Linked DNA regions of Homo sapiens. The protein of the gene in region 5 purifies or fractionates together with the protein of the main gene of each other region. This does not show direct contact. Each region holds a gene or a part of one and is shown on either strand. Other genes may lie near its edges. The genes, in order: TXNDC5, TRAP1, AADAT, TXNRD2, PGD and KYAT3.

The links.
Region 1: the proteins of PGD (region 5) and TXNDC5 fractionate together in Homo sapiens (co-fractionation; one large-scale study listed by BioGRID). This does not show direct contact.
Region 2: the proteins of PGD (region 5) and TRAP1 fractionate together in Homo sapiens (co-fractionation; one large-scale study listed by BioGRID). This does not show direct contact.
Region 3: the proteins of PGD (region 5) and AADAT fractionate together in Homo sapiens (co-fractionation; one large-scale study listed by BioGRID). This does not show direct contact.
Region 4: the proteins of PGD (region 5) and TXNRD2 fractionate together in Homo sapiens (co-fractionation; one large-scale study listed by BioGRID). This does not show direct contact.
Region 6: the proteins of PGD (region 5) and KYAT3 fractionate together in Homo sapiens (co-fractionation; one large-scale study listed by BioGRID). This does not show direct contact.

What each region holds. Positions count from the first base shown.
Region 1 is NC_000006.12:7,884,982-7,890,463, forward strand, and holds part of TXNDC5 (thioredoxin domain-containing protein 5 isoform 1 precursor), read right to left. Parts: intron 4,601-5,482; coding exon 4,514-4,600; intron 3,868-4,513; coding exon 3,724-3,867; intron 1,063-3,723; coding exon 980-1,062; intron 1-979. UniProt on the Homo sapiens protein: Protein disulfide isomerase of the endoplasmic reticulum lumen involved in the formation of disulfide bonds in proteins. Can reduce insulin disulfide bonds.
Region 2 is NC_000016.10:3,706,244-3,711,725, forward strand, and holds part of TRAP1 (heat shock protein 75 kDa, mitochondrial isoform 1 precursor), read right to left. Parts: intron 4,160-5,482; exon of another isoform or gene 4,142-4,159; intron 1-4,141.
Region 3 is NC_000004.12:170,075,812-170,081,293, forward strand, and holds part of AADAT (kynurenine/alpha-aminoadipate aminotransferase, mitochondrial), read right to left. Parts: intron 2,773-5,482; coding exon 2,698-2,772; intron 1-2,697. UniProt on the Homo sapiens protein: Transaminase with broad substrate specificity. Has transaminase activity towards aminoadipate, kynurenine, methionine and glutamate. Shows activity also towards tryptophan, aspartate and hydroxykynurenine.
Region 4 is NC_000022.11:19,913,223-19,918,704, forward strand, and holds part of TXNRD2 (thioredoxin reductase 2, mitochondrial isoform 5 precursor), read right to left. Parts: intron 4,996-5,482; coding exon 4,921-4,995; intron 2,622-4,920; coding exon 2,543-2,621; intron 2,055-2,542; coding exon 1,992-2,054; intron 1-1,991. UniProt on the Homo sapiens protein: Involved in the control of reactive oxygen species levels and the regulation of mitochondrial redox homeostasis. Maintains thioredoxin in a reduced state. May play a role in redox-regulated cell signaling.
Region 5 is NC_000001.11:10,414,821-10,419,276, reverse strand, and holds part of PGD (6-phosphogluconate dehydrogenase, decarboxylating), read right to left. Parts: intron 2,291-4,456; coding exon 2,160-2,290; intron 1,902-2,159; coding exon 1,768-1,901; intron 452-1,767; coding exon 352-451; intron 1-351. UniProt on the Homo sapiens protein: Catalyzes the oxidative decarboxylation of 6-phosphogluconate to ribulose 5-phosphate and CO(2), with concomitant reduction of NADP to NADPH.
Region 6 is NC_000001.11:88,936,740-88,941,396, forward strand, and holds part of KYAT3 (kynurenine--oxoglutarate transaminase 3), read right to left. Parts: intron 1-4,657. UniProt on the Homo sapiens protein: Catalyzes the irreversible transamination of the L-tryptophan metabolite L-kynurenine to form kynurenic acid (KA), an intermediate in the tryptophan catabolic pathway which is also a broad spectrum antagonist of the three ionotropic excitatory amino acid receptors among others.

The DNA.
Region 1 (5,482 bases), on a different chromosome or scaffold from region 5:
CCTCCCTTCTACCCGACTCTGTTCCCTTGTCTCTTCTGACCCCCTCCTGCCGTATGGATGGCTCCCCTTCAGCCAAAGGGGATCCTCCTTTTTGATACTTGATCTGTGGAGCTTTAGGTTTTTAAATGTTGCAAATGATTTGAAAGGCATTGCTATGGTTCGTTCAAGTCCTGTGCTTATTAACTTTTTACCCCTATGGTTAGTTTCTCAGGAACATGTGGAGTGTAACAAACAAGAAAAGTGACGCCTTTATCATGTTTAGATAAACAATCTACTGTTGTCCTAACACTCTGCTTTTCCAAATGGATTGTTTTATTTGTGAAGACAAAAAGTTACTCCCATTTTTCAGCTGAGGGAACTGGGGTTCAAAGGAATTAAAGGACATCCAAGTTTACTATACAGTCATTCACGGTAAGTCTTAGAACCAAGGTTGTCTGGATCTCACACTACCTGCAATCCATTTCTGCTCTGGTCTCCAAGACCACGTGGCATGCAGGTTCAGGAAACTGCGTAGCATACTGAATGGCTCTAACAGACTCTACTGGATTTCTCTACAAAAGAAATCCGAGTACTTAAAAGAACCGAGGAGCAAAGCTACATCATGACACTCATTGTTTAGCCAAAAAGAAAAGCCATCTATTTGGAAAAGTGCAGATACCACAAAACTGAATATGGCCATCATAATTTGCCTCCATTTTTATGTTTTCTCCAAAGTTGATATAACTTTAGCCTCATTCTCCATATATAATCAAAGTTGATATAACTGTAGCCTCATTCTCCATATATAATTAAGGCCATTGAAGTTTAAAATATTTGAATATAGGAGCATGATAACGGTTCCTTATTTCCTACAACATGACCTACATATAAATGTAACATGTGCCCAACATTGAGTCTGGAGGGGTGGCAGATGAGCTGAAAAACATGATGTGACTTAGTACACATGGACAAAGTAGTTTCTAATTAAACAGCCACTTACCATGGAGCATAAAACTTGATGAAGGTTATTCCTTCTGCAATGGTGTCATCGAAGTTATTTTCAGTGAGTGCCAACACAGTGCCCTTCAAGGGAGGAAAAAGCCACAGTTCAAGTACATCCCTTAAAGTTGAGCAGGGCCATGCTTTGGGATTGCAGATACACGAATCAGTAATTTTTTAAAAATGCAGTTACGTAGGCTCCAAGGTCACACAGAAATACCTACACAATCTGCATTTCATAGGCTACACACAAAGGGAGGCTGGCAGCCTCTGAAGGGCAGAGAGATCAATGCAAGTCCCTGGGTCCCAAGCCTGGGAGATGTGGTGAGGAGGTGGCTGGACACTGTACAGGGGATGAAGGTGGGGAGGGGGACTGTCTTTTGGGGATGAGGCAGGTTGAAAACTCTCCAGGGCGCTGTGGTGTGGACCAGGCAGCCCTGGGTGTCTGACACTTGAGTCTGCACCTCTAAGCCTGGAGTCTCCAGGATACCCACTGAAGTCTCATCCTCAGCCGCTTTTCTCACTGGCCACCCTATTCTCCTAGCACCCTTTGTGACATCCTCTCTATGCAACAGAAAGAACCTAGTTACAATAGCAAAGGCAATGATACCTGTTTTACATTGAACATAAAAATGGAAAGCAGCCTGTTCTAAGTCAATGTGAAAAACGCTGATGGAAGCTCTGGCTGGAGAATTTAAGGGAAAGGTGCTACATGGTAGTCTGCTTTAAAGCCATTCTCCCTTGACAGTTCTTTACAGAATGACGTCTATGTGTTTCTCCAAAAATGGATCTGCGATTCTCTCCTGAGAGCAGGAATGGGATGATTTATCACGTGGCTAAGTGTACCAGGGCTGCTCCATTTGAGTCTGGCATCGAGTAACATGTCAGTGACGGAGGCCAAGGGGGCCACTGTGGAACACTACCATCTTTATGTCCAGAAACATGACGCCACACGCACTGAAAAGACCCACTTCATGGTGGAAAACTGCATTATAAATAGAAATGGTGCTGCGATGAAAACATCCGTGGTATATAATTATACTCAATTTGGGATGACCTTTGTAACCACCATGACACATACACTCCTCTAACATAAGTGGTCCTGACAACTACAAAATCAGCTGTTTACTTCTTCAACCAAAACGTCAACTTTTAAACAACACTCAGGCCATCCCCGACCTACAAGAGCCCAACTAGGGACAGGGTTGTAGGGGTGAGGAGGCCTGGTGTGGCCCCACCAGGGAGGAGGGGTTGGTGGCCCCACTGGTTTTTCCAAATCCAAACTCCTGGCCTTCAGGCATGACTTCTACCTGAAGAGGATGACACGGGCACTCTCGTCCAGTGCAGACCTCCTGCCGCAGCCCCAGGCTCATGGTTGGAACTGCCACTGGACACTGCCACCTACACAGCCGAAAGCCTTGAAGATCAACACCTTGAAAACCAAGCTCATCCCTTTCCTCGAGCTCTGGCCCCGCCCCTGTGCTGGGTACCATCCTCCACCAGATATGCGGGAATCAGACTCGCCTCGGACCCTCCCTCCCTCTCCGCGCTGCACAGCGGCTGGACTCCTTATGCTGGCTTTCTCCTCCTCGCCATCGCACAGTCACGGCTGCAGCATGAGGGAACGCATCATCTTTAAAGGCCTAATAGAGCAGCTTCCCACCTCCAGCACACGTGCATGCCGGTCATTTTCCTACAACTCCAATCTGCACAGAGCCTCCATGGGCTCCCTGTCAATATGGGATACAGTTCCTAATCCTTGGCCAGCTGCCCACAGACTCTCAACTCCAGCTCCTCTCTCACTCTCAGGGATCCTACACCACACCCTGACCTGTCTCCCACTGTGTTCCCCCAGCCCCAGCTCTGGCCCTGCAGAAATGCCGGCTGATTCTCGGGTTGTGCCTCTCCTGGTGCAGCCCCTCAGTGGCAGCCCTGCCCAGCCTATCTGTCCAGCACAGATCCCGTCAATCAGCTCCTTAGGGACACTTCTTGCCCATTTGCCCCCACTTCTCTCTAGCAGCCAAGCCCTGCACACATTTCTGCCCCAGCCCCCTGCCATTGGCTTGTGTGTCTTCTCACCATTTGCCTCAGAGACCTGTATGCTTCAGAGGCAGGAAACCGGTCTTATTTTTATTCCCTGGTGGCCTAGAACAGTGCCTGTGACATAACAAGGGCTTCATAAAGCAGAACAAATGAATCTGAAACCTCCTGCTACCTGAGTGAAGGAAGGAAGCCCCTCAGTGCATCAGGACTGCCTAGGCAGGTTACAGCTACAGTCACTGGCCTGATCGCTGCGGATGCCCTCTTGGCTACAGGTCTTCTAGGGGCCTTTACAACGGGTAAAGGAAAATGCCCGGAGCAAGGTCAGGAATAGAATCAGGGCCCCGGGGCCAGCAGTCGAGATTTCATAGCAGAAACATGCCCAGCAGAGTCATTCTTTAAAATGAATGAAGCGGAAAGGAAGGATTCTCTAGAGATTTTTGACACCAAATATTGTCTTGGGATTTGTCTCACATCCATTTCATGTTTTCAAAAGGAAAGCTTTTGTTTGCATTCGCCCCTGAAAGCATGTGAAAGTCGATGAAAAATACGTGTTGAAAACGCAACTGGAGCCAACCATCAGATGACTGTGTCCCCAAACTGTCATTTTGTCCAAAGCATTTGAGGAGGCCTCTGAGGGTGGGGAGGTGGGGGGCCGGGGGCCACGGGCCACTTATGGGGATCCCGACTCCAGCAGGCACCCACCTTGTCAGCCTCGGGCTCAGCTGCCAGCACCGGGGCCTCTGAGGGCGTGACGGTCTCCGTCGCTCCAGTCTCTGTGCGCTGCAGCTGCGACTCCACGTACTCCCTCAGTGACTCCAAATCCCGCTTTCCCTTGTACTGATCCACCTGGCCAAGACACGGGCACGCGGCTGAGTGAGTCCACTGAGGTGTTCTGAATCACTTAAGCCTTCCTGCAACCCCTGCTTGCCCGGGTCAGAGCTCCCAGATGTCTTAGCGGTGGTGCAAAGTCTGCATGTTCATATTTAGACGGGAATGTAGAGAGGATAACTGAATGCCTCGGCTTTGGTGAGAGAACTGTACAGGCCCCTCTTCCCTCCACGGGGTTACACATCACAGAAGTCTGGGGCAGAGGCCTGCCAGCAAGCCGTTGTGCTGATGGGGAACTCTGAGCTGCTGACCATCGGCCAGGGAAGGAGGGAGGGAGGCAGGCAGAACCGGACCAAGTGCAAGCCTTAGCTCTGTTCAAAGGCCTGAAGGTTTGTGTTTACAACCAGAGCACAGTTACCCTGTGACTGTAAGATGTGGGTTATTCTAGTGATAACCTGGGCCACTGAAATGTTTCAAGGTTCATCTCCACAACCCAAATCTTATCAATTAAGAGAAAGACGTTTGTTTCATTATACACATTTCTCCAAACCAGTGCCCTAACAATCAAGATTGGCAATTCACTGTGCCCATTAAACCACTCAGTAGCTCAGCCTGATGGGGTTAAGAGATGAAGAATTCTCAGTACTAAGAAGTGCAGACGTACCTTTTTCCCATCTCGGAACCAGAGAAGAGTGGGATAGCCACGAACCTGGTTTCCGGAGCAGAGTTCATAGTGCTGTGTACAATCAACCTGAGAATAAAAGCAGATCAACTTCCCAGTCAGTTTCTTCATGAACCTTCTTGCTAATGGGGCTACTGGACACTTTGTACGTTACAAATATTCTTTTCAAAATCCACATTCTGTAGCAACTCTGCCAGCAAGGTGCAGTTTTTGAAGAGAATGTTCCTGAAAGCTATGCTAAAACATACCTGAGCTAAAAGGAGTAAAGGAAAGACTTTAGAGGCAAGATTTATTGTATTAATAGCTCAGTTAAACATGCCGGTTTTTAGGAAGCAACATTTTAACTCGAGCAAGTAAAGTCAGCACCTGGTAGCTTGAGTCAGGGCCCTGGCTTGACATTTGGTGGTGGTGGGAGGGGGGTTAGCCTGGCTGTCGGTGACTGGGACCCAGACCAGTTCACATGCCAGCTTAGAATTTACTCTCATGCTGAAGCTTAGAGGGTTTTAAAATCAACAGGGAGCAAGAAGTGAATTTTAAACAGGAGTAGTTGGTATATAATAAAGGTAAGACTGCAAAGATGTCAAGATTATAATCCGTCCTTAATTTTATAAACTTAATTTACCAACAAGCACAGCTCTTCAAGCTTTTTCTTTCATTTAAATCTCATAAAGCTGCTGCTTGCCCAACATTTTCATGAAACATCTTGTTCTAAGTCATTGCTTTCTTTTTTATTTTCTACCAGCACTAAAATAGGCAGGACTAAGTTGTTATTCACTATGTCAGCAAACGGGGGTAAAAATACTATTTCAACACCTAAGACCCGTCAGAGAGCAGCTAAGGTGCGGAACTGAAGTACAAGAGGCCTCAGCCCAAGGTCGGGAGAGGACAAGCATTTTTAAGGGTCCAGTGTAACCCAGCCACATGTGCCAGGGATGAAGGGCTTCAGCGTGG
Region 2 (5,482 bases), on a different chromosome or scaffold from region 5:
GCACCAGGCCCAGCTTCCAACTTTTTACTGTAACTTTTGTTTTGGGGTGGGGTGGGGGTCTCACTATGTTGCCTGGAGTGCAGTGGCTGTTTACAGGCACTGTCATGGTGCATGGTAGCCTCCAACTGGCAGGCTTAAGCGATCCTCCCACCTCAGCCTCCCAAGCAGGTGGGATTAGAAGGGCGCACCACCACTCCTGGCCTATTTGCACTCTTTTTTTTTTTTTTTTTTTTTTGAGATAGGTTCTTGCTCTTTGACCAGGCTGAAGTGCAGTGGCACAATCACAGCTCAATGTAGCCTCAAACTCCTGGGCTCGAGCAATTCTCCCACCTCAGCCTCCCAAATGGCTGGGACCACAGGCATGTGCCACCACACCCAGCAATTTTTAAAAATTTTTTTTCGAGATGGAGTCTCACTATGTTGTCCAGGCTGGCATTCAACTCTTGGCCTCAAGCAATCCTCCTGCCTTGGCCTCCTGAAGTGCTGCAATTACAGGCATGACCAACCGCACCCAGCCTCGTTTCCACCTTCTGATGGACCTTCAGATTGTTTTCATTTTCGGGTTATTATGAATAATGCTGCTATGAACATTCATGTGTAGGCTGTTCTGTGGACATGTTTTCATGTCTACAAGGTATGTGCCTCAGGGTAGAACTGTGGGGTCATATGGTAATTCGGTTTGACTGTGTGAGGAGCTGCAAGAATGTTTTCCTGCAGAGGTCGCACCGTTTTACATTCTCACCAGCAGTGTGGGAGGGTTCTGATTTTTCCACATCCTAGTTATCCATTTTGTATCACCTGTTTTTTTGTTGTTGTTTCTTTAATTTTTAATTATAGCCACCCTAGTGAGTAGGAAGTGCTAACTCACTGTAGTTTTGCTTTGCAGTTCCTAAACTGCCAGGCATCTTGAGTTTTTAAAAAAAATGATTTAAGAGGAAATCTTTTTTTTTTTTTTTTTTTGAGGCGGAGTCTCGCTCTGTCGCCCAGGCTGGAGTGCAGTGGCGGGATCTCGGCTCACTGCAAGCTCCGCCTCCCGGGTTCACACCATTCTCCTGCCTCAGCCTCCCAAGTAGCTGGGACTACAGGCGCCCACCACCACACCCGGCTAATGTTTTGTATTTTTAGTAGAGACGGGGTTTCACCATGTTGGCCAGGATGGTCTCAAACTCCTGAACTCGTGATCCACCTGCCTCAGCCTCCCAAAGTGCTAGGATTACAAGCGTGAGCCACCGCGCCCGGCCTTAAGAGGAAATGTTTCTAAACAAAATATATAACCCAAAAGGCCATAAATATAAGGACCACATAAAAATTTAAGTCAAAAGACAAACACCCGGGTGAGGTGGCTCATGCCTGTAATCCCAGCACTTTGGGAGGCTGAGGTGGGTGGATCGCCTGAGGTCAGGAGTTCGAGACCAGCCTGGCCAACATGGTGAAACCCCGTCTCTACCAAAAATACAAAAATTAGCTGGGAGTCGCAGCGGGCATCTGTAATCCCAGCTACTCCAGAGGCTGAGGCAGGAGACTTGCTTGCACTCGGGAAGCGAAGGCTGCAGTGAGCCAAGATCGTGCCACTGCACTCCAGCCTGGGCAACAGACAGAGCGAGACTCTAACTCAAAAAAAAAAAAAAAAAAGACAAACACATTAAGAAAAAAACTGGGGGCCAGGCACGACGGCTCCTGCGTGTAATCCCAGTACTTTGGCAGGCAGAAGTAGGAGGATCACTTGAGACCAGGAGTTCAAGACAAGCCGGGGCAATATAGTGGGACCCCATCTCTAAAAAAAATGTTTTTTAATTAGCCAGGCATGGTGGCACATGCTCCTTGGGAGGAAGAGGTCACAGCCACTTGGGAGGATGAGGCAGGAGTATCACTTGAGTCCAGGAGGTCAGGCCTGCAGCGAGCCAGGATCGCACAACTGCACTCCAGCCCGGATGACAAAGCAAGACCCTGCCTCTAAAATAAAATTTAGTGCCGTGGCTCACGCCTGTAATCACAGCACTTTGGGAGGTGGGGGCGGGCAGATCCCGAGGTCAAGAGTTTGAGACTAGCCTGGCCAACATGGCAAAACCCTGTCTCTACTAAAAATACAAAAAAAAACAAAAATTAGCCAGAAAGCCAGGAGCAGTGGCTCACACCTGTAATGCCAACACTTTGGGAGGCTGAGGCGGATGGATCATGAGGTCAGGAGTTCAAGACCAGCCTGATCAACATGGTGAAATTCCATCTCTACTAAAAATACAAAAATTAGCCGGGCGTGGTGACGGGTGCCTGTAGTCCCAGCTACTAGGGAGGCTGAGGCAGGAGAAATGCTTCAACCTGGGAGACGGAGGTTGCAGTGAGCCAAGATTGTACCACTGCACTCCAGCCTGGGCGACGGAGCGAGACTCCATCTCAAAATAAATAAATAAATAAATAAAAATAAATGAGCCGGGCATGGTGGCGCGTGCCTGTAATCCCGGCTACTTGTGAGGCTGAGGCGAGAGGACTGCTTAACCTCGGGAGGCGGAGGTTACAGTAAGGTGAGATGGCGCCACTGCACTCCAGCCTGGGCAACAGAGTCAGACTCTGTCTCAATTTTTTTTTTTTTTTTGAGATGGAGTTTTGCTCTGTTGCCGAGGCTGGAGTGCAGTGGTGCGATCGCGGCTCACTGCAAGCTCCGCTTCCTGGGTTCACGGCATTCTCCTGCCTCAGCTTCCCAAGTAGCTGGGACTACAGGCGCCCGCCACCATGCCCAGATAATTTTTTGTATTTTTAGTAGAGATGGGGTTTCACCGTGTTAGCCAGGATGGTCTCGATCTCCTGACCTCATGATCCGCCCGCCTCGGCCTCCCACAGTGCTGGGATTACAGGCGTGAGCCACCGTGCCTGGCCCGACACTGTCTCAATTTTTAAAAGTTATTTAAAAGGGCTAGCGCAGAGGTTACGGTGAGCCAAGATCACGCCACTGCACTCCAGCCTGGGCACCAAGTGCAAAACTCCATCTCAAAAAAAAAAAAAAAAAAAAGAAAAAGGCCATTGGTTCAAGAGAAAAATGGCCATTCACAAAAACAAGAAACATCAATGGCTTTACGTCCTAGTAAAAGATGTTTTACCACACTCATAACTAAGGAAATGCACTTTAAAACGAGATAGCATTTTCACTACCAGATTGACAGATGTTTTAAATACTGTCATTCTAGCACTGGTGAAGGTGTGAGAAACTGTTGGCAATGCCGTCTGTTATCTTGGGGAAACTCAGCAACAACCTAAATGTCCGCCATGAGAGGGTTACATAAATTACAAAACATCCTCGCTATGGAATACCAGAGCTCTGTGGCGACAGGAAACAAACCCCAGAATATAAGTGGAAAATGCAAGGTACGGAAGATTACACACGGTTCCTTCCCAGTTTACCTTTGTTTCCCTTTTTTTTGTGTGTGTGTGTGAGACGGAGTTTTCGCTCTTGTTGCCAGGCTGGAGTGCAGTGGCGCCATCTCGGCACACCACAACCTCCACCTCCCAGATTCAAGCGATTCTCCTGCCTCAGCCTCCTAAGTAGCTGGGATTACAGGCATGCGCCACCACGCCCGGCTAGTTTTGTATTTTTCGTAGAGACAGGGTTTCTCCATGTTGGTCAGGCTGGTCTCAAACTCCTAACCTCAGGTGATCCACCCGCCTCAGCCTGCCAAAGTGCTGGGATTACAGGCGTGAGCCACCGCGCCTGGCGAGAAGATTCTTAAGTACATGAACATTCTGAACAGAAAGACCTGTATTCCCTCACAAATGTCTGAGTTCTTAGCTCTGGCATTCTCAACACTCACTGTTTCTTGAGGTTTCCTGTGTTCCAGAACCTGGTCTAATCGTTCTCTACTATGATATACTGATACTTCATTCATCAGGAAACATAACTCCTTGAACATAAAGAAAAAGAACAAAAAGCGAAAGGGCACCTCGGAATAGTCAAAATATGGGCCTGAAGCCCTCACCCTGAGCTTTGCTCATGGAAGACTACTGGCCCCATATGAAATCCATCTCATTCTAACAATTTGATGCTAACAAGTTTCCCAGCCACATCTGCAAACTAGGAAAGGAGAGAACAGGGCTCCAGACAGACCTGCAAGTTAAGGCCACAGTAAGAGAGGCCAAAAATATAAACACTCACAATGCAGTTTTGATGTGGGGACACTTCATAGACGAAGGATTCTTCACATTTCAATGGCCCTACGGGAGCCTACATATTAAAACAGAAGACCAAACATTAACACCCGTAATAATGACCCTGAAAACATCCAAGAGAGGTTCAGTCATGGGCCATCAAATGATGGAGTGTTCTAGAAAGACTTCTCATCATAATGGTTAAAATGAAATGTTTTAAAGTCAGCCTCGTGGAAAATTCGCTTGAACATTCCATTGCCTGACAAATGCTGAAATACTGGCAAGTGTGAACTAACATGGCAATGTGCTGTCTTAATTTCTCCTTCGAGGTGCATATCACTAACCCGACACACATAGTTACATTAGAAGGACCCACGTCCTTCTGTCTTCTTCTCAGCAGCATTGCTGAATAGCCTCCTGCTCTTAATATGGCATTTAATTTAGCTATCTCAAAATTAATTTCTTTTATATGTGTGTGTGTATATATATATATATATATATATTTTTTTTTTTGAGACACTGTCACTCTGTCACCCAGACTGTAGTGCAGTGGCGTGATCACAGCTCACTGCAGCCTCGACTTCTCAAGGCTTAAGGGAGCCTCCCACTTCAGCCTCTTGGGTAGCTGGGACCACAGGCACACCCAGCTAATTGGAAAAAAAAAAAAAAGGGTTTTTTGGTAGAGATGGGGGTCTCTCTAGGTTGCCCAGGCTGGTCTCAAACTCCTAAACTCACAGGATCCTCCCGCCGCAGCCCCCAAAGTGCTGGGATTACAAGCATGAGCTACCAGGCCTGGCCAATTTTTTACCTTCTAGCCACATTTCTTAATTATATGGCTATGAAGTAACTGAGCCATTCCTTTTAAAACCAATGATTCAGCTACATGTCCTTTCAATCTACCCAATCTACAGGAATTCACCTGGTTAAAAAGCCAATGGCAGGGCTGGGAACGGTGGCGCACACCTGTAATCCCAGCACTTTGGGAGGCCGAGGCAGGCAGATCACAAGGTCAGAAGTTCAAGACCAGCCTGGCCAACATGGTGAAACTCTACCTCAACTAAAAATACAAAAATTAGCCGGGCACGGTAGTGCATGCCTGTAGCCCCAGCTACTTGGGAGGCTGAGGCAGGAGAACTGCTTGAACCCGGGAGGTGGAGATTGCAGTGAGCCGAGTTCGTGCCACTGCACTCCAGCCTGGGAAACAGAGCAAGACTCCATCTTGAAAAAAACAAAAAAAAAACAAAAACCAAAACAAAAACAAAAAAAACACAGGTGGCAGTAATACTCCCGCAAGTAGATACTGTTTCTCCAAGCTACAGCTTTTATGGTAATTCCTAGTGGTTTTAGC
Region 3 (5,482 bases), on a different chromosome or scaffold from region 5:
TCTAGATGTTTCATATAATTGGAATAATACAATATTTGTCCTTTTGTGTCTGGCTTCTTAAAGTTAAAATGCTTTCAAGGTTCATCCATACTGTAATATGTATCAGATCTGTGTTCCTTCTTATGGCTGAATAATATTCCATTGTATGTATATACCACATTTTATTTATCCATTCATCCACTGATGGACACTTGAGTTGCTTCTACCTTTTGGCTACTGTAAATAATATTGCAATGAACATTTGTATACAAGTATCTGTTTGAGTCCCAGTTTTCAATCCTTTCTGGGTATATAGCCATGAGTGGAATTGTGGGTCACATGGTAATTATATTTTAATTTTCTGAGGAACTGACAAACTTTCCCACAGTGGCCATACCATTTTACATTTCCTTCCACCAGCAGTGAATGAACCCAGTTTCTTCACATATTCACTATTTTTTTTTAAATAATAGCCATCGTGGTATGTGTGAGGTAGTATCTCACAGTAGTTTTGATTTGCTTTTCTCTATTTAAAAAAATTTTTTCCCCAAGCCTGAGTCTTGCCAAATAATCAGACTGCAGGTACAGCAGTCACACATTGTAGAGTACTAACCACTACACGATCATGGAACTTGCGGCTTTCATACGTTGATTTATGTTGCTTTGCATTTCTCTACTAATGATGTTGAGCATCTTTTATGTGCTTATTGGCCTTCTGCACATGTTCTTCAGACTAATGTCTATTTAAGTCCTTTGTCCATTTTTAAATTGGGTTGTTTATCTTTCTGTTGTTGAGTTGTAGGAGTTCTTTATATGTTCTGGTTATTAAAGGTTTATCAGATATATTATGATAAATATTTTCTCCCACTGTATAGACTCTTTTTTCACTGTTTTCATAATGTCCTTTGATACACAACCACTTTTAAATCTTCAAGTTCAATTTATCTATTTTTGTGGTTGTCGTTGCTCATATTTTTGGTCATATCTAAAAAATCCACCAAATCTAAGGTCATAAAAATTTGCCCTTATGTCCTAAGTGTTTGTAGTTTTAGCCCTTATATTTAGGTCTTTGATCCATTTTGAGTTAAATTTTCATATGGTGTGAAGTAAGGGTCCAAGTTCTTTTATATGCATGTGGAAATCCAGTTGTCCCAGCACCACAGTTGAAGAGACTATCCTTTCCCCCACTGAATGATCTTGGCACCCTTACTGAAATCAACTGGATTTGTGGGTTTATTTCTGGATGCTCAGTTCTATTCTATTGGTCTATATGATTGTCTTTATGCCAGTACCACATTGTTTGATTACTGCAGCTTTGCAGTTTTGAAATTGGGAAGTGGGGGTCTTCCAAATTTGTTCTTTTTCAAGATTATTTTGGCTATTTAGGTCCTTTAAACTCACATCAATTTGAGGACTGGCTTTTCCATTTCTACAAAAAAGGCTGTTGGCATATCGATAGGGATTGTATTGAATCTGTAAATTGCTTAGGGTAGTATTAATATCTTAACAATATTAAGTCTTCCAATCTATGAACTGTGGAAGTCTTTCCATTTATTTGAGTTTTGCTTAATTTCTTTCAGCAAAATTTTTCAGTTTTTAATGTACAAGTCTTCCACCTCCTTTGTTAGATTTATTCCTACGTATTTTATTCTTTTGGATGCTATTACAAATGGAATTGTTTTATATATTGCTTTATATGTTGATTTTCATAAAAATAAAATAAAATTTGAAAAAAATAAAAGGATCCATGAAGTTGGAATCAATAGAGCATAAAAGTCATCGCATTGAATTCCCCTACTCTAAGCTAGAATTACTTTAGCCATATTTGTGTTAGGTGGCAGTCAAGAGTGACTGAGCACCTACAGTGATGGGCAATGTTGTAACCCATTATGAAGTCCGGTAAGGCCAATGGTTAGCAAGTTCTTATACAGAGCTGAAATTGTTTCCCTGTGGTTCCAGTTCTATTAACCTAAGGTCATGTACAAATAAATCTAATTCTTTTGTCACATGGCTAACTTCTATGTATTTGAGGACAGTTTTCATGCCTCTGTTGAGTCTTTTCTTTCTGGGGAAAATAGCTCCAGTTCCTACAACCATTCATCATATGATATGGCTTCCAATTCCCTATTTACTCTGACTATCTTTCTCTGAGTATGCTCCAGTTGTGGACATTTCTGTCTTAAAGTAGACTGCCCCAAACAAACCTAATGCTCAGCAATGTGCTCTGACCAGTGCAGAGCAGAGTCAGATCATCAGCTTCCTCATTCTGTAAATCACAGTTCCACGGATCTAACCTTGGAATGGAAAGTCGTCATTATACCATATAAGTATACTAAACTGACATATAACATAGTTGTACTTATGCATATGGTAATAAGATAGTAATAAAAAATAAATTTTTGTAATTTAAGTTACATTTCAAGTAAAATATTAAGAGAATTGGACATGATTTTGCATAATCTAATTTTAATGCCTATACACTTGGATTTCAAAAAAGAAATGTATAAAGAAGAGAATACATTTCACATACTTTGTATATATCCTTTAAGATTATCCTGCTTATGGATAAAATATGCTATTTCATTTTTCTGTGGACAGATTATTTTAAAGTTAATAAGATATTAACTTTATTATAATAAAGTTATTATAAAACCTTTATTATAAGTTTTCTTCTTATTTACTACAAGAGAGTTGCCTTTAGTAAAAATGTATACTCACACTTTGAAGAGTTCCTGAATAAGCAGGTTCATCTAGGAGGACATTATCTCCAGGATTAATGATCATTTCAAACACCTAACAAAAGAAGCATAGGTTAGCTTGTTAGTCAGCATAGGTTAGTACTGTTTCCATGCTCAGAAGCCCATTTTTTAGTTTGAGCTCACATGGTTCTAGAGTAAGAATTAGCAAATTGTTTATAAGGGGCCAAACAGTAAACACTTTGCGGGTCATAGTATCTCTGTTGCAACTACCCTGCAACTACTCTGCCTCTATAGTGAAAAAGTAGCCATAGACAATATATAAATGAATGGGTGTGACTGAGTTCCAATAAAACTTTATTTACAAAATTTGATGAAGGGCTGGATTTGGCTCTCAAACCATAGTTTGCCAACTCCTGTTCCAGAGAAAGGTGAACAGAGGTTTGGCTGCTAACATTCATTTATTCCTTTTATTGCTTCTTTGAAAATCTATTAAATGTTTACTATACGCCAGGCCTGTGTAAAGTGTCAGAGATAAAATAGCAAAATGACATGGTTCTTACTCTCATGGAGCTACTGGTCCACTGGGAAAGCTAGACACCAATTAAATAACTACCCAATAAATGTGCAAATTAAAAACGGTGGTGAGTGATATTAAGTACAGATGCACAATGACATAAGAGCTCATTGTAGGAAGACCTAGGCATTCAGGGAATTCAGGGAAGGCATCCTGGAGGAAGCGATGAGTTGGTGTACGGGGTAACAACAGTTAGATTTGAAAAACCAAAATAATTATGTGTCTTGAGGCAGAATGTAGAGAAAAGAGTGGTGTGACATCAGACAGAAGTGGGCAGAGACCAACCATGTAGGCATTTGAGCCAAGGGAGGCAAGTAAGGATTTTAGGAAGAGAGTGGGGAGGAGGAGTCACATGATTAGATACTCGTCTTGAAAAGATCAATCTGGCTGCAGTATGAAAGAATGAAAGAAGGGTGAGAATACATGTGGAAAGTTTAGAAAGTTTTTAGGATTGTTTGGGAAGTTACTGCCACAGGCCTGGAACAGGTAAGGGTCATCTTAAAGTAGAGTGGTGACAGAGGAATTGTAGAGAAGAACTGAGAGGTATTAGGAAATGAAAAGTAATGGAACATGATTATGGACAATAGGGAAATGAGGAAGAGGAGGTGTCAAGAATGATGCCTAGATACTTGGTTATGGAACTAGATAGATGGTGGGGGTGGTGCCATTCACTGAAACACATAACCAAAAAGCCATCCATATCTGAGTGACAGGATGATTTGTTTTAGTGTGAGGTGCCTTTGAAACACCCTGTGATGATGTCAGATGGATAGATGGACAAATGGATTTGGAAGGAGCCTGGAAGTTACTGGCATATGGTTGATCATGTGAATGTAAATGAAGATACCCAGGAAAAGTACATAGACTAAGGAGAGATGTTTAAGGACTGAGCTACAGGGAACTCCAATAAATAATGGCTGGGTAGAGGAGGACACTGCAAGGAAGGGAGGGAAAGTGGGCTGGAGGAGAACCACACAACATGCTACTGAGAGAGCTAGAGGAGGACAGTGTTTTCAAAAGGGTGGGGGAGACTTCCAGTTCCAAAATGGTGGTGTAGAAGCAAGTTGACTTCATTCCCTCCCACAAAACCACTAACAAATATACAGTGCTAAAATTTACACCAGAAACAACCCAGAACTCAAATATGAGGATGAGTCAGTTCCTAGGACTACAGAGAAGTGAAAAAACTCTGAACAGATGGTAAGAAAGGCATACTTCAGCATCTATGATACCCCTCCTCCCAATTCTGCCTGGCACCAAGCACGTGGAAAAACTCCCCCTAATTCACGGCTTCTACACTGGAAAAAGTGAGATTGAGGTGGCCAAGAGTTTTCCCCACCATCTTTGGTTCCCTGGCTGGAGACCTGTCCTTGCCTTTAACCCTTTGGAAGCATCATGACTGCCTGGAGGGAAAAACATCCCTGAGGACAGGCAGAGACAAAATCGGGAGGCAGGACTACCATCCCAAGCCCTGGAAACTCTGCACTGTAACTCAGCGAAAGGCATGCCAAAACAGAGTGACTGTTCAGCAGCACCACACTGCAGGAGGAATGTTCCAGAGGTTCCTGGGTATAATTCTTTTGCTAGCCATCTCATGCCAATGGAATAAATCCTTTGGGACCTCCCTGATTTGGGACAGGCTGTTCTCGAATTATTTACTAAACCTGGACTTAAGGTGCCACCTTGGAAGATGCCAACAAGGAAGCAGTGACCCAACAATAGAGATTTACTAAGCAAATATATCCAATAAAAAGCAAAGCAAGCCAGACAAATCAAACAAACAAACAAAACTAGAATAAATAACTAATCCTTTAATGCAAAAAACTGATGTATACATACAAGAAACAATAGCCAACAGGAAACCATGACCTCCCCAAAATGACAAAGCAAAAATCCAGTGACTGATCCTAACAAGATGGCAATTTGTCAGCTTTTTGACCAAAAATTCAAAATAGCAGTTTTAAGAAAACTCAGTGATCTTCAAGGTAACTCAGAACAGCAATTCAGAAATTTATCAGAGACATTTAACAAAGAGATTGAAATAATAAAAATAACAAAAAACCCCAGAAATTTTGGAACTGAGAAATACTGAACTCAGAATTGTTGAACTGAGGAACTCATTAGAGGCTCTCATCATCAAAATGGACCCAGCAGAAGGAAAAATAGGTAAGCTTGAAGATTGGCTACGTGAAAATACAGTCGGGGAAAAAAGAAAAAAGAACAAAGAGTG
Region 4 (5,482 bases), on a different chromosome or scaffold from region 5:
GAACTGGGAGATTCAGAATTATGGAAATTAACCACAGGCTTGCAGCAACACAGGGAACATTTAAAGTCAGGAAAAACAGCTGAAGCTGAGTGAGAATGGGAACTCCAGGGTGTTTTAACTCACTCTGGTCCCACTCCCACCTCAGCGGCAGCCCTGAACAGTGATGTGTCAGAGAGAGCAGAACTCAGCTGGGGTCTTTCAAAGCCCCCCCACAAAGAAGAGTCAGAGTCAGCAACTATAGGGTCATCTTCATCCAACTTCACCGGAGCTCAGCCAGGGCTAAAAGCCTTTCTCTGGGGGCATTTGTCTGAGGTTTTCTTCTCACAGCTGCCTGAGGGGATAGGTAACAGTTAGAGCCAACAACAGACTGCCCAAAAAGCTTCAAAGGAAAAGCCAAAGTATGAGATGTCTGCTGGAGCTTTGAAAGGTTCCAGCATATTCCTGGGAACCTAGGCCAGGCGCATGCACAGCACTGTGCACACATCAGGAAGGACCAACGAGGCCCTGAACCCTCACCTCCAGCTGACCTTGATCTCTGCAGAAGCAGGAAGTGAAGGCTAGGGCAGAGCTGTCTGCTGCCTGTTGAGTGTGGAAGGCATCCCCTCCAAACGCACACAGAGCCCTCAGCAAAGACCGGGAGAGTTCTTAGTTTAGGGAAATCTCCATGCAGTTCTTAGCTGACCACTAAGCTAACCAAGTAAAGACTTCAGTGGCCACATACATCAAAGAATAAGAGTCTACAAAGTCAGTTCCGAAAAGTCACCAAATAAGCAGCTGTAACAACAGAATCCTGGGGCAGAGGGAGAATCTGGTTTCCAAAGTTATCGCATTAAATTATTTGAAATGTTCAGCTTTCAATAAAAAAATTACAAGATACGTGAAGAAACAAGAAACCATGACCCTTACACCCCACTGGAAGGAATGTAAAACACAGTCATTGTGGAAAACAGTCTGAGGTTCCTTGAAACGTTCCTTGAAAGATTCAACATAAAGTTACCACATGACCCAGCAGTTCTGCTCCTAAGTGTAACCCAAGAGAAGTGAAAACTGAAGTCCACCAAAAAACTTCTTTGCAGATGTTCACAGCGGCACTATTCATAATAGCTAAAAAGTGGAAATAACACATGTGTTTATCCAAGCAAGTAGATAAACAAAGTGTGGTCTATCCATACAATGGAATAGTATCTAGCCATAAAAAGGAATGATACTGACACACACTACAATGTAGGTGAACCTGGAGGATGTTATGCTCAGTGAAGTAAGCCAGTCACTAAGGGACACACACATACGAGTCACTAAGGGACACACACGTACCAGTTACATGAGAAGGACTTACATGTACGATTTCACTTACACGAGGTGCCTAGTGTTGTCACATTCATAGAGACAGAAAGTAGGTGGTGGTTTCTAGGGGCTGGGGGAGGAGGCGCTGGGGAGTAGGGTTTAATGGGAATAGTTTCAGTTCAGGGATGATGGAAGGAGTTCTGGCAATGGATGGTGGTGACTGATGGCCGCACAGCTCTGTGAATGTACTAAAAACCACTGAATTGTACCCTAAAAAAGGCTAAATTTTATAGCGTGTGAATTTTATTTCAAACTTTTTTTAAACTGGGGGACGTGAAGGAGGAAGATGAAGAATGAGGCTTATATCCTGAATGTTCCAACATTCTGAGGCTGAAGGGAAAAGGGGGAATCAGCAATGGAGACTTAGGAAGCAGGATCCTGGTGTGGAAGGGGACAGATCCAGCGGGGCAGGGGGAGAGCAGAACGAGAGCTGTCCTGAGGATCTGGCAGCGTGGAGGCCACTGGGGACCCCACATTTCAGCAGTGTGGATTCAAGAGAATTGGAAAGCAGAAAGTGATGATAGTGAGTATAGGGGGAAAGGGTGTGCAAGCTGCTGCTGTGGGAAGCACGTGTGTAAAAACGTATCCCTCAAAGAGGCCGGGAATGGGCCACGGCAGCAGGGACGCTATGCTCTGGGGACACTCACGTGCGTGGGGTATCTCGGCCGCCCTCCAGTAGCAATGATGATGTGATCGGCTGACAGCAGAATCTGAGGAGAAAAAGAGAAAGCCGTGGGTCAGACAGGTGCATGGTGATCACCCCACCGGAGGGCCTGAGCACCACAGACCTTGGCCAGCAGTTCCCACGGCCCCTGCCCTGTAGCGTGGACCCTTGGCCAGCAGTTCAGAGGCCCTATGGAGCTGGAATCCCATCAACCATCAGCCTGGCAGGAGGGGGACAGGCAGAAAGCACAGGGAGATGTTCTAACTCCAAGCACTTCAAGGCACCCTCAAATCCCCAAAAAATCCTGCAAAAAGGGTGTGGTCACCAACCCTGTTGCCATGCCACTCCGAGCAGCAGGGCAGCAAATTATTTGATCACGTTAAAGACAAGTGCCCAGCCTCAAAAGAAGCCACCTTTTTGATTCCAGCAGCACGTGTTACTAAGAACAGCACCCAGGCCAAACACAGCTGCAGTTGGTGCCCAAGGTCTGCAGAAGGGTCCACAAGGAGCCACGCGAGTAAGTCAGATGCTCACCTCTTTCCCACCTTTGGCAACGCCGCAAACCGTGTGCTCGTCAACAAAGCTGGCTTTGATGTTAAAGTACTTGACTTTTCTGAAAGATAAAGATAAGATTTTCAAACACTTCCTCTGCAAATTAAACCTCACCAACTGGATCAATAGGGAACACTGGTAAAAGGGAGCTCCAGCCCCCAGCAGGGCCTGGTGCTGTGGCTCAGATGGACCAAGAGGTAAGCGGCAACCATGCTGAGAAGCATGGAGGGGATGTGGGGGCACCTCGCCTGTCCCCCAGGGATCCCAGGGACATGTTAACCACAGGTGTCAAAGCAGGGACGGAAGCCAGCTCAGCACGGTCCTAAGAGGCCACGTACAGCCCTGGTGTGCAGCAAGAGGTGGCTGGACCTCTCTTGGGGACAGTCCTCATCACCCGGACATGTTCCAGCAGGGAGCTGTGGTGCCCACCAGATGGTGTCACCTTCTGATTTCAGGGGTGTGGTAACACCAAGAGAACGGGCATGACAAGGCTGGCAAAACAGTGGCTGGGAGCATAGTGCACAGAAACAAATGACCCACGCTTTCTTTTCTTTTTTTTTTTTCTGAGTCAAAGTCTCACTCTGTCGCCCAGGCTGGAGTTCAGTGGCACGATCTTGGCTCACTGCAATCTCCACCTCCCAGGTTCAAGCCATTCTCTTGCCTCAGCTCTTGCCTCAGCCTCCTGAGAAGCTGGGATTACAGGCTTGCGCCACCACGCCTGGCTAATTTTTGTATTTTTAGTAGAGACGGGGTTTCGCCATGTTGGCCAGGCTGGTCTTGAACTCCTGACCTCAAGTGATCCACCCACCTCAGCCTCCCAAAGTGCTAGGATTACAGGCATGAGCCACCGCGCCCCACCCTTTTTTTTTTTTTTAAAGACATCTTCTCACTCTGTCACCCAGGCTGGAGTGCAGTGGCATGATCATAGCTCACGGAAGCCTTGTTTCAAGTAACTGGAACTATAGGCATGGGCAACCATACCTGGCTAGTTCATTTTATTTTTTGTAGGGATGTAGCAATAAAACTATGTTGCTCAGGCTGGTCTCCAACTCCTGGGCTCAAGTGATCCTCCCACCTCAGCCTCCCAAAGTGCTAGGATTACAGGCATGAGCCACTGCACCCGACCAACACTTTCTAATGACAAAAGGACCGTGCTGCAGCAAGGGTTCTGGGAAGGCTCTGCCTCCTGCTTGAGCCTGCCTTCTCCCCACTGGCAAGCCTGTGCCTCTATGGGCTGTCTGAGCTGCGTGAAGTTCCTACAGCAAGAGCCCTTCAATCACCTCGACAGCCAGGAAGCTGCCACGGGACACAGCCGGGCAATGCTCATGGCAGCACTTTTCAGAAGAGTGAAAAAGCAGAAACAGCCCAGGTGCGCCCCAGCCTCCTTCTGCAGGTGGCTCCGGAGCAGGCAGTGGGCTGGGCCTGTTTGGTGCCCGTCCAGGAGCTGCCCAGGGCAGGGAGGAGGGAGGGCAGAGCCTGCTGTCCCCAGGAAACTGTACCAGGGGATACAGAGCCCCACAGAGAAACACAGAAATGCCACAGCACAATGTGGCTTAGCTCCCTGGATAGGGGAGAGCTTGTGAGGTCCAGGTGGAGGGCAAGCAGTTGGCTTCCTGGCTCCACTTTCCTGGATTTAGTGAGCACAAAACTGCTGCCTGCTGTGAAGCCCCAGGAAGACCCGCCCTGGGGCCAAGCAAATGGTGCATGAGGAGAGCCACCAGACCTCTGCGGGACCACTGTCCCCTCCACAGCCCCGGGAGAAAGGCTGGGCCAGAGGCGGTACCAGTTTCAGGCATCTGCTGTGCTGGCAGCTGAGCCCCAGGAGAAGGTTGTAGGCCAGGGGAGCATAGGCCTCTGTGCTGGAGATCCCCAGGGGCTGACAGGAACGGTGACCAAGTAGGGACATTTGCTCCAGCGGAAAGCACCAAGCTCCTGCACCCACACCCAAGGAGCTGGAGGTGTGCAGTAAGAAGGGGGTTCACGGGGTGGGGGCTTGCCACTGGGATGACCCTCACCACATATTAGCCCCAGGCCTAGCTATGTCCACGCTCTCTGGCCTGAGGCCTTCCAGCCCCAAGCGCCTCCTCCCTGTGCAGCCCTGGGCTCTGGCCATTCTGCCAATGTGGCCTCACTCATTCCTTGGCAGCACCTCCAGGCTCTGCTCAGCAGCAAAGGGCAGTCTCCCCTTCCCCTACAGTCACTCCCATCTGCTCCTTGTCCTCATCCCCACCCATGAGCAGGACATGAACCCCCAGAGCCTGCCAGAGCATGCTCTGCACAGTAAGTAAGTGTGTGTCCAGGCACAGAACGCCCAAGAGAAGGCCCAGAGGGCGGCCCATTCCCGGAGAGAGCTTCAGTACCTGTCCTGAAGCTGGACACGGTGGCCCCAGTTCAAGGATTTCACGTGATTTTGAACAGCTTCTGCCATCTTCCTCCTGTGAAGATACGAAACAAAATGTAAAATCCACAACACAGGTGTTAGCTGCAGGGCCTCACGATGGACTATTAGATTCAAATGGTACATTCATAGAAATATCAAAAAACAAGAGTGCTTTTAAAGGTGGCAAAACGTGACATCCATCCCTACGTGCAACCGCCTGTCCCAGGCTCAGGGCTGCAGACCTTTGGACTCACAGAAAACAGGGGCTCTGACCCACGGCTCTCCAGATGCAGCTGCTCTGTGCCCCAAAGGCTACCCACTGCAGGCAGAGGCCTATCTGAGCCAATGTGGGTGTGGCTGGGCCACGTGGTCCCCTTCCCAGAAGAGCTCAGCTGAAGCGGCCTCCCACCCGCACTCCTGGCCTTGGAGATGCACTGTTCTTGGTGGGGCTGTGCTGTGCATGGCTGTAGCATCCCTGGGCTCCCCGCAAAGGGGAGCAAACCCTTCCCCAGTGACAACCAAAACTGTCTCCAGACATTCCC
Region 5 (4,456 bases):
GGAAGGCTGAGGTGGGCGGATCACGAGGTCAGGAGTTCAAGACCAGTCTAGCCAACATGGTGAAACCCCATCTCTACTAAAAATACAAAAAAAAAAAAAAAATTAGCCAGGTATGTTGGCACACCTGTAGTCCCAGCTACTTAGGAAGGCTGGGGCAGGAGAATCGCTTGAACCCAGGAGGCGGAGGTTGCAGTGAGCCAAGATCATGCCACTGTACTCCAGCCTGGGTGACAGAGCGAGACTCTGTCTCAAAAAAACAAAAAACCAAAAAAAAAAAACAAAAAACCAAACATCACAACTGATGGCCCCAGGGAGGTAGAGTAACCATGGCACCAGCCCTAGGCTACATACCTGGCAGTTTTCAACAGCTGACTTAAAGAAGTCGTCCAGTAGGAGGTTCTGAAGTTCCGGGTTTCGATCAAATGCATCCTTTATCTTTCCTAGGAATACACTGAAATAATCAAGGGGGGAAAAAAGCAATGAGTCTTTTTTTTTTTTTTTTTGAGACGGAGTCCCGCTTTGTCACCAGGCTGGAGTGGAGTGGCACGATCTCAGCTCACAGCAACCTCCACCTCCCAGGTTCAAGCGATTCTCCTGCCTCAGCCTCGCCAGTAGCTGGGATTACAGGCACGCACCACTACAACCGGCTAATTTTTGTATTTTTAGTAGAGACAGGGTTTCACCGTGTTAGCCAGGATGGTCTGGATCTCCTGACCTCGTGATCCGCCTGCCTCGGCCTCCCAAAACGCTGGGATTACAGGTGTGAGCCACCGCGCCCGGCCAAATGCAATGAATCTTAACTCTAACAGGGAAGTAAGCTGGAAGCCGATGTATACCCTAGTGAAACAAAGTTACATTTCTCATTTCTTCAAGCTGTTAACCCTTTTCCTGTTTAGAAAAAAAGTGCAGCTCGCTGCCAGCGCTCATTTAATTTTACATAAACACGCTTTTTGAGGCTGAAGAAAATCTGACGATTTTCAATATGAAAATAAAATATAAAAACTATTCTTGGCGTTATTTCTAAAGAGAACTAATATTAGAATCATCTGAATCACCAGAATCATCTACTTCAGAAAAATCAGATTCATCAAATGAATCTTCAGCCAACATGAGAACGATGTAACGTCATGTGTAGAAATGCTACGTTTTCTATGATTTGGCATTTTCAATGAAAATACAGAGCAAAATTCCCAAGAGGCAAGGCCAGAGGGCACGATAGTTCACAGAAGTACTTTAAAAGGTGTAGTGTAGTAGGTGTAATGCGGAGCCGGGCGCAGTGGCTCACGCCTGTAATCCCAGCACTTTGGGAGGCTGAGGCGGGCAGATCACCCAAGGCAAGGAGTTCGAGACCAGCCTGGCTAACATGGTGAAACCCTGTTTCCACTACAAATACAAAAGAATTAGCCGGACATGGTGGCGTGCCCTTGTAATCCCAGTTACTTAGGACGCTGAGGCAGGAGAATCACTTGAACCCGGGAGGCAGAGGTTGCAGTGAGTCAAGATCGCATCATGGCACTCCAGTTTGGGCAATAAGAGCGAAACTTGGTCTCAAAAGAAAAAAAAAGGTGTAGTGTGGACAATCTAGTTACAGCAACTGAGGTACAGTGAAGAAGGGAACCACATAATCTAAGCCTATCTTGTGCCAGTGTCCAGTGATGGGGCTAAGTGCCCATCCCTGGAAACTGCTCAAGCTAAGTGTCCTAAGATCGCACTTCTGCACAGCCGTGTGAGTCCTTCCCGTCGGACCCTGGGCTGCCTCTCACTTACCTTCTAATGATGCAGCCCCCTCTCCACATCAGGGCGATGCCACCATAATTGAGAGTCCAGCCAAACTCGGTGGCTGCCTGCCTTAGCAGCATAAAGCCTTGAGCGTAAGAGATGATCTTGGAAGCGTAGAGTGCCTAAAGAGTGACACAGAGACCTACTAGGATTGCCATTAGGAGAGTGACCGCCTTATGTCTACCAGTCTTATTCTCATCAGCAGTGGAGATCCCAGAAGGGCCAATATTCTAGGAAAACATTGTAAGTCAAGATCCAAGTCAAGGCTGAACTTCATTCCACCTGCCATCCTGTGGCCTCGAGTGTTCTCCCACCACAACCCCCACCCCCACTGCCTTCCGCAGGACCAACAAAGACCACTGCCAGGGACTGTGTCCCACCTTCCGAATGTCCTCCAGGAATGATTTCTTATCACCATCAAACTGGAACTTCTGGGGACCCTTCAGCTTTTTGCTAGCTTGAATTCTCTCATCCTTCAGAGATGATAAGCACCGAGCAAAGACAGCTTCTCCTACATGGGGAGATCGGGAAGAGGAAACAGATTACTGTCAGGCCTCTGAGCCCAAGCTAAACTATCATATCCCCTGTGACCTGCATGTATACATCCAGATGGCCTGAAGCAAGTGAAGAATCACAAAAGAAGTGAAAATGGCTGGTTCCTGCCTTTACTGATGACATTCCACCATTGTGATTTGTTCCTGCCCCACCTTAACTGAGCGATTAACCTTGTGACATTCCTTCTCCTGGCTCAGAACCTCCCCAACTGAGCACCTTGTGACCCCTCGGCCCTGCCCGTAAGAGAAAAACCCCCTTTGACTGTAATTTTCCACTACCTGCCCAAATCCTATAAAATGGCCCCACCCCTATCTCCCTTCGCTGACTCTTCGGACTCAACCTGCCTGCACCCAGGTGATTAAAAAGCTTTATTGCTCACACAAAGCCTGTTTGGTGGTCTTTTCACACGGATGCGCATGAAAATTACCAAAGTTCGCACAGCAACCAGAAGAAAGGTGGAGCAGGAAAGTCTGTTTATACAAAGAGCTGAAAGTTTCAACCTTAGGCCACAAAAGTTGACATGGATCGGAAGGAACTTTTATAAGAAGCTCTAAACAGTTAATTTGATAACTAAAACTCTTAAGACAATCTTCCAATACAAACATGAGTATTCAATCACAAAGATTAACATGAAATTCAAAAGGGAGTTTTGAGGGAAAATGAAGAGATAGAAACCACTGTTATGGCTGGGCAAGGTGGCTAACACCTGTAATCCCAGCACTTTGGCAGGCTGAGGTGGGAGGATCACTTGAGCCCAGGAGTTCAAGGCTACAGTGAGCCATGATCACACCACTGCTCTCCAGCCTGGGCAACACAGTGAGACCCTGTCTCTAAAACCAGTAAAATAAAATAAAAACCACTGTTATGTAGAATACTCAGTGTTGGTCCATGAGTAAAATTTCAAATTCAATTTAGAGGACCTTAATTTTTTTTTTTGAAGATTTTACATTGATAAGTCACATTTACGGACTCACCTCTCAAAAAAATGTTAGGTTTTTATATTTTACGGTTTTCAGTATAGCCGTAATCATTCAAGTTTAACCACTTTACTTCATTTGAATTAAAAAGTCAATGTAGTATTTTAATATTAAGACATTTAGTATTTTCAGAAAGTATTCCTTATAAAAGACTTGCTCAACTGACAACTTATAGTTAGAATAAATGACTCTTTAACCACTTTTTCCCCCATAGACAAAATGAAGTAAAATCTCAGGGAACTAACAGAGGACTTTATTTCTGAGGAAAGAGGAGCAGCTATGGCTTGAGACTGCTAACCCTACTCCAAACACACAAAAGCAGCTACCTCTCTCCTGGCCCAAATGCACACACAGGATGACTTAGCATTTCTAGAAGGAAGCTTTGTAAGATGACTGGTGCAACAGGCTATGAGGCAAACCCTTCCTGTTAGAGGGGGAGAGGGCAGCTGGAAGACTTCCCTGTTAGTTCACAAATAATGATGGCTCCCAGCAGGGGGTGGGCCCAGCCACCCTGGGGGAAGAGGTATATGGATCCACAGGAGGAGAGTAGGATTCTGAGATCCTAATACTTACACATATACTTGAGTCCGTGATGAATAAATTGCTCCTAGCTATTGGCCCCTCCCTCCTCACCTATGTTATGGCTCAGATCGGCTAAAAGCAGCCAACTTCCTTCTATACAGCACGGAACTGTAGAAACCACCGACTTTCCTCCTTACTCTGCCTTACACCACACAGTTCAATAGGGCGAGGCACAATGAACAGGGAGGTCAAAAGGGGAGAAGAGTCAAGGGAGAGAAAGGCAACCTGTATCCAGAGGAGCAAACAGGAAAAATTCTGTTTTATTATTTTTGAGATGCTTCTTTTTTTTTTTTTAGGCGGAGTCTTGCTCGGTCGCCCAGCCTGGAGTGCAGTGGTGCGATCTCAGCCCACTGCAAATTCCGCCTCCCAGGTTCAAGTGATTCTCCTGCCTCAGCCTCCTGAGTAGCTGGGATTACAGGCACGGGTCACTATGCCTGGCTAACTTTCGTATTTTTAGTAGAGATGGGGTTTCGCCATGTTGGTCAGGCTGGACTCAAACTCCTGACCTCGTGATCCGCCCACCTCGGTCACCCAAAGTGCTGGGATTACAGGCGTGAGCCACC
Region 6 (4,657 bases), about 79 Mb from region 5:
GTTTATTTTTTGAATAGGTGATTCATACATATAGCATAAAATTAAACAGAGGTGTAAGCAGAGAAAATCCAGCCTTCTGTTGTTCATCTTCTGTTTCTCTACTTCTTTTTCTTTGTCTTCTCTCTCCATCAGAATGATTCAGTCTGAAAGCCAATAGGTGAGGCTGAGCAAAGCGGCTGTCCATGTATAGGGCTGGGAGAGCCTTGGCAACCCTAGTGCAGGACACTGCAGCCAGAGTGGAGTGAGCAGGCTGGTCAGCATGGGTGTCATGAGGTGATAGTGCTGGCTGGAACAGGATGTCAGAGTCTGAGTGGGGTAAGTGAGGCACCTGTATGGTAGGGTGGCCTCATGCAGGGTCCTGGAGCCTGGATGAGATGAGGCAGGCATCTGGCATGGTGTCAGTGCCCAAGAGGGGCAAGGAGGGCTTCTGTGTAGTAGGTGACAGTGGTGGCCTGGTATGGGGTATTGGAGACCTAGATGGGGGCACCTCTCCAGGAGGATGACAGGACAGGTCGGCATGGGTGATAAAGCCCAGGTCGGGTGAAGATGTAGTGTAGCAGCCTGGCACAAAATGTCAAAGCCTGAACCGGGAAAAGGGTATTCTCTCAGGGACTGGGAAGGTGAGGGATGCACAGTGGCTTTGACAGGAGATTGATCCCATACAGAAGTATTGATTAAATTAGTAGTTACATGACTAGTGGCCAAATCTGGGAAAATCTAAGTATCAAAATAAGTAATAATAATAATAAATTATAGCCCACTGTACTACAAAATAAAAATCCAGAAGTCCACATTGATACATATGAATAAGTTAATAAATAAATTGCTTAATGAGATATGGAATATTTTCATAGTACCTTACTACAAAATATTTACTATTTAACAAGAAAAAGTATAACTTTATAGTAGAAAAGACTGGCAAACACCACCTTAATCAGGTGGTTAAAGTTAACATCACTGGTAATAGGAATAAATGAAATCATGTGCCACCTGATACAATGAAAAGGATAGAGTATCATCACTTCTGTGGTTTCCTGCCGAAGTGCATAGCCTGAGTCTAAGCATGAGGAAACATCAAACTTAAATTGAGGTACTTTCTTAAAAATAATTCATTGATAATTTTCAAAAGTATCAAGATCATGAAAGTCAAAGAAAACTGAGAAACCATTCTAGCTTGAAGGAGACATGACAACTAAATGCAATGCATGATTCTAGCCTGAATTAATTAATTATTATAAAAAGGACATTATTGGGACAATGAATGACATTTAAATCAGATCTGAGGATTAGATGGAGTATCAAGGTTAACTTCATGATTTTGAGGGTTATATTGTGGTTTGGGAGGAGAATGTCTTGTTTATGAAGAATACACAAGAAAGTATATGGGGGTGATCGGAGCATCCTCAGTAATTAAGTTGACAACTTACTCTGAAATAGTTTAGAAAAAAGTTCTTGAAACTTTTAGGTTGAGAGCATTTAAAAATATTTGTTTTAAAGTAAGTCAGCTTCCCACCTATCTTCCTCAGCCACTCAGTTTTTCTCTCCAGAGACAACACTGGGATTTCATTATATATTTTTCCAGAGATTTTCATCCATCTTTCTTTTTAAAATTGTATATTTTTTATTGTTCTTGTTTATTTATTTTTAACTTTTATTTTAGGTTTGGGGGTACATGTGAAGATTTGTTACATAGGTAGACTCATGTCACAGGGGTTTGTTGTACAGATCATTTCATCACCCAGGTATTAAGAGCACAGCACCCAACAGTTATCTTTTCTGCTCTTCTCCCTCCTCCCACCCTCCACCCTCAAGGAGGCCCCAGTGTCTGTTGTTCCCTTCTTTGTGTTCATGAGTTCTCATTATTTTTGGCTCCACTTATAAGAGAGAACATGTGATATTTGGTTTTCTGTTCCTGTGTTAGTTTGCCAAGGATAATAGGCTCCAGCTCCACCCATGTTCCTGCAAAAGACATGACTTCATTCTTTTTTATGGCTGCATAGTAGTCCATGGTGTATATGTACCACATTTTCTTTATCCAATGACAGCATTGATGGGCATTTAGGTTGATCTGAATGTAGCATCATTTATTCAAGCAGCCCCCACTGGTGAATAATTTTGTTGTTTACAATATTTTGCTATTACAAATGATGCCTCAGTGAAAATCCTTGAATATAAGTCATTCGAAATGTGCAAATAAATCCACAAGAAAACACTTGTAGAGGTAGAATTGTTGGATCAAAGGGTATGGGAAATCACATCTGAACAGAAATTTTCAAACTAACCACCATAGAGATTTTACAAATTATACTCCCACTCTCAATTTGTGAGAGTGTTTTATGAAACTTTTAGTTGTTTTGGTTGTTTCCAATCTAAGAGATAAAATTTCTTTGCAGTTCTATTTTTCATTTCCCTTACTATGAAATAAGTTTGACAACTTTTATAAGTTTAACAACTACTAAGGATCTTACCCATAATATTATAAAGTGCTATTTTTGCCTTAAATTTATTTACTTTTATCACTTTTATTTTGCTCTGAATTCAAACTGCTTTCTTTCAATTTCTATTTTCTTGGTATGTTTTTGTCATTCTTTGATTTTTAGTCTTTCTAAGAGGTGGAGTTAGGTGTGTCCACTTTCCCTAGAAACTTCCAGCTACTTCCACACTATCTGCCAATATTGACTGCTGATGTAAGAAGAGTCTGGGTCCATACTGATCCTCCTCTTCTGGCCCCTCTGGAGGCCTTGATCTTACTGTCTAGGTGACCAAAGGAATTGTCTTTGAAGCCCAATATATCAAGCGAGGTATATCTCAGTGTTAATAATTGTGTGACAATTATTATTATATGCAGGTTCCATTTGTTCTGCTCTTATTTTTTTCTGGCAACTCCACATATTTTATTTTTCCTCTGCATCAATAATTTTTCTGCCTAATATTTTAAAAATTATTTGTTCCTTTCTACTTCCTTTTGCTCACTTATCTCCATCCTTAATGTCCTTACAGAAGTATTTAGTGTTCTTTGTGGTGTTTCTATTAATAATGTCACCATAATTTCCAATAGCTTTATTTTTTCTTTTCAATTTCCTACCTGAACTCTGATAGCTCCCATTTGATCTTCTTATAATATCTTACTCTATCTTCCCTGAATTCGTAAAATCTCTGCTTTCTCATTTTAAAGGTTTTAAATCTGAAATAGCACTAATTTTATTTGCTCCATGGCAACATTTTTTTTGGGCGAATATTCTCTAACACTTGTTTTTCCTTGTACCTTTCTCTTTTCCTTATACTGTCCTATATAGATTCACAGTTGGTTCCTCTTTTATTATTATTATTATTGTTATTATATTTTTTGAGACAGAGTCTGACTCCATCACCCAGGCTGGAGTGCAGTGGAGCAATCTCAGCTCATTGCAACCTCTGCCTCCTGGGTTCAAGTGATTCTCATGCCTCAGCCTCCCAAGTAACTGAGATTACAGGCATGTGCCACCATACCCACCTCAATTTTTTGTATTTTTAGTAGAGATGGGGTTTCACCATGTTGGCCAGGCTGGTTGTGAACTGCTGACCTCAAGTGATCCTCCTGCCTCGGCCTCCCAAAGTAATGGGATTACAGGTGTGAGCCACCGCACCTGGCCCCTCCTCTTTGATTATTAATCATTTTTGATTGAATTCTTTGTTTTCCACTGCCAAAGCATGCACTATACCTATTGTTCTGAGTAATAAGCATGCTACCTGCTGGCTTTGTCTGTGATTTGAAGATAGATTTGCTGATTTGTATAAGGGAGAAGCTGGGGCAGCACCAGAAAAGAGCAGAAATTCTCCTTGTCTCATAGTAAAATTTAATACAGTTGATGTAGGGTTCAGTGGGTGGGAGTTCTTTTAGACCACAGTTCTTACCAAATAATTAAATTGGCTATCCCCAGTTTAATACATCTCTTCCGCATTGCTTCAACATAGCTTTTAGCAAAATGACAGGAGTAAATGAGGAAATCTATAGACCAACCAGAGTCTCCTTTCCACCTTGCCTTACATAGTTTCCAGATGACATGACTGTATGTTTTTGCCGTTTCCTCCATCATGCCAAACGGTCTAGAGAAGTTCCTGCTGCCAGTGCAGCGACTGCTCCTACTGTTCTCAATAATGAGTATGCTGCCTGCTGGCTTTGTCTGTAATTTGAAGATGTAAAAGCAGGATCCTTTCTAGGGATCTTCCCTCTACCATCACCTTCACAGTATTTAGCAGCCTTTCCTTAAACACTGGGGAATTTGTTTTCTATTCTCTTAGTTGTTTTTAAATAATTTCTAAAAAGAGATTAGGGGAGGGCTGGGTTTACCATTTTAAAACTGGAAGTCCTACGTTACTTCTTTCTTCTGTTAGTTTTGTTTACAATTTCAAATAATATACCACTATTTCTCAATCCAGTGTAAGATGAAGGATATTAATAGCATTACCGTTCTTTAAAATTTCAGTCAATTGAATGTTTACATTGTTAGGTTGTTAATATTTATATTCTATTCTGAGCAAGTCTGGCTATCGGTTGTCTCTGAAAGTTGAAAACAGTGTTTATGTTATTCTCATTAGGTTTAAAGATGAGTGAGTTGATAGAGTGTCTTGATCTCAGTAAGACTATTTTCAGTACCAACAACATTTTGAAAACAGC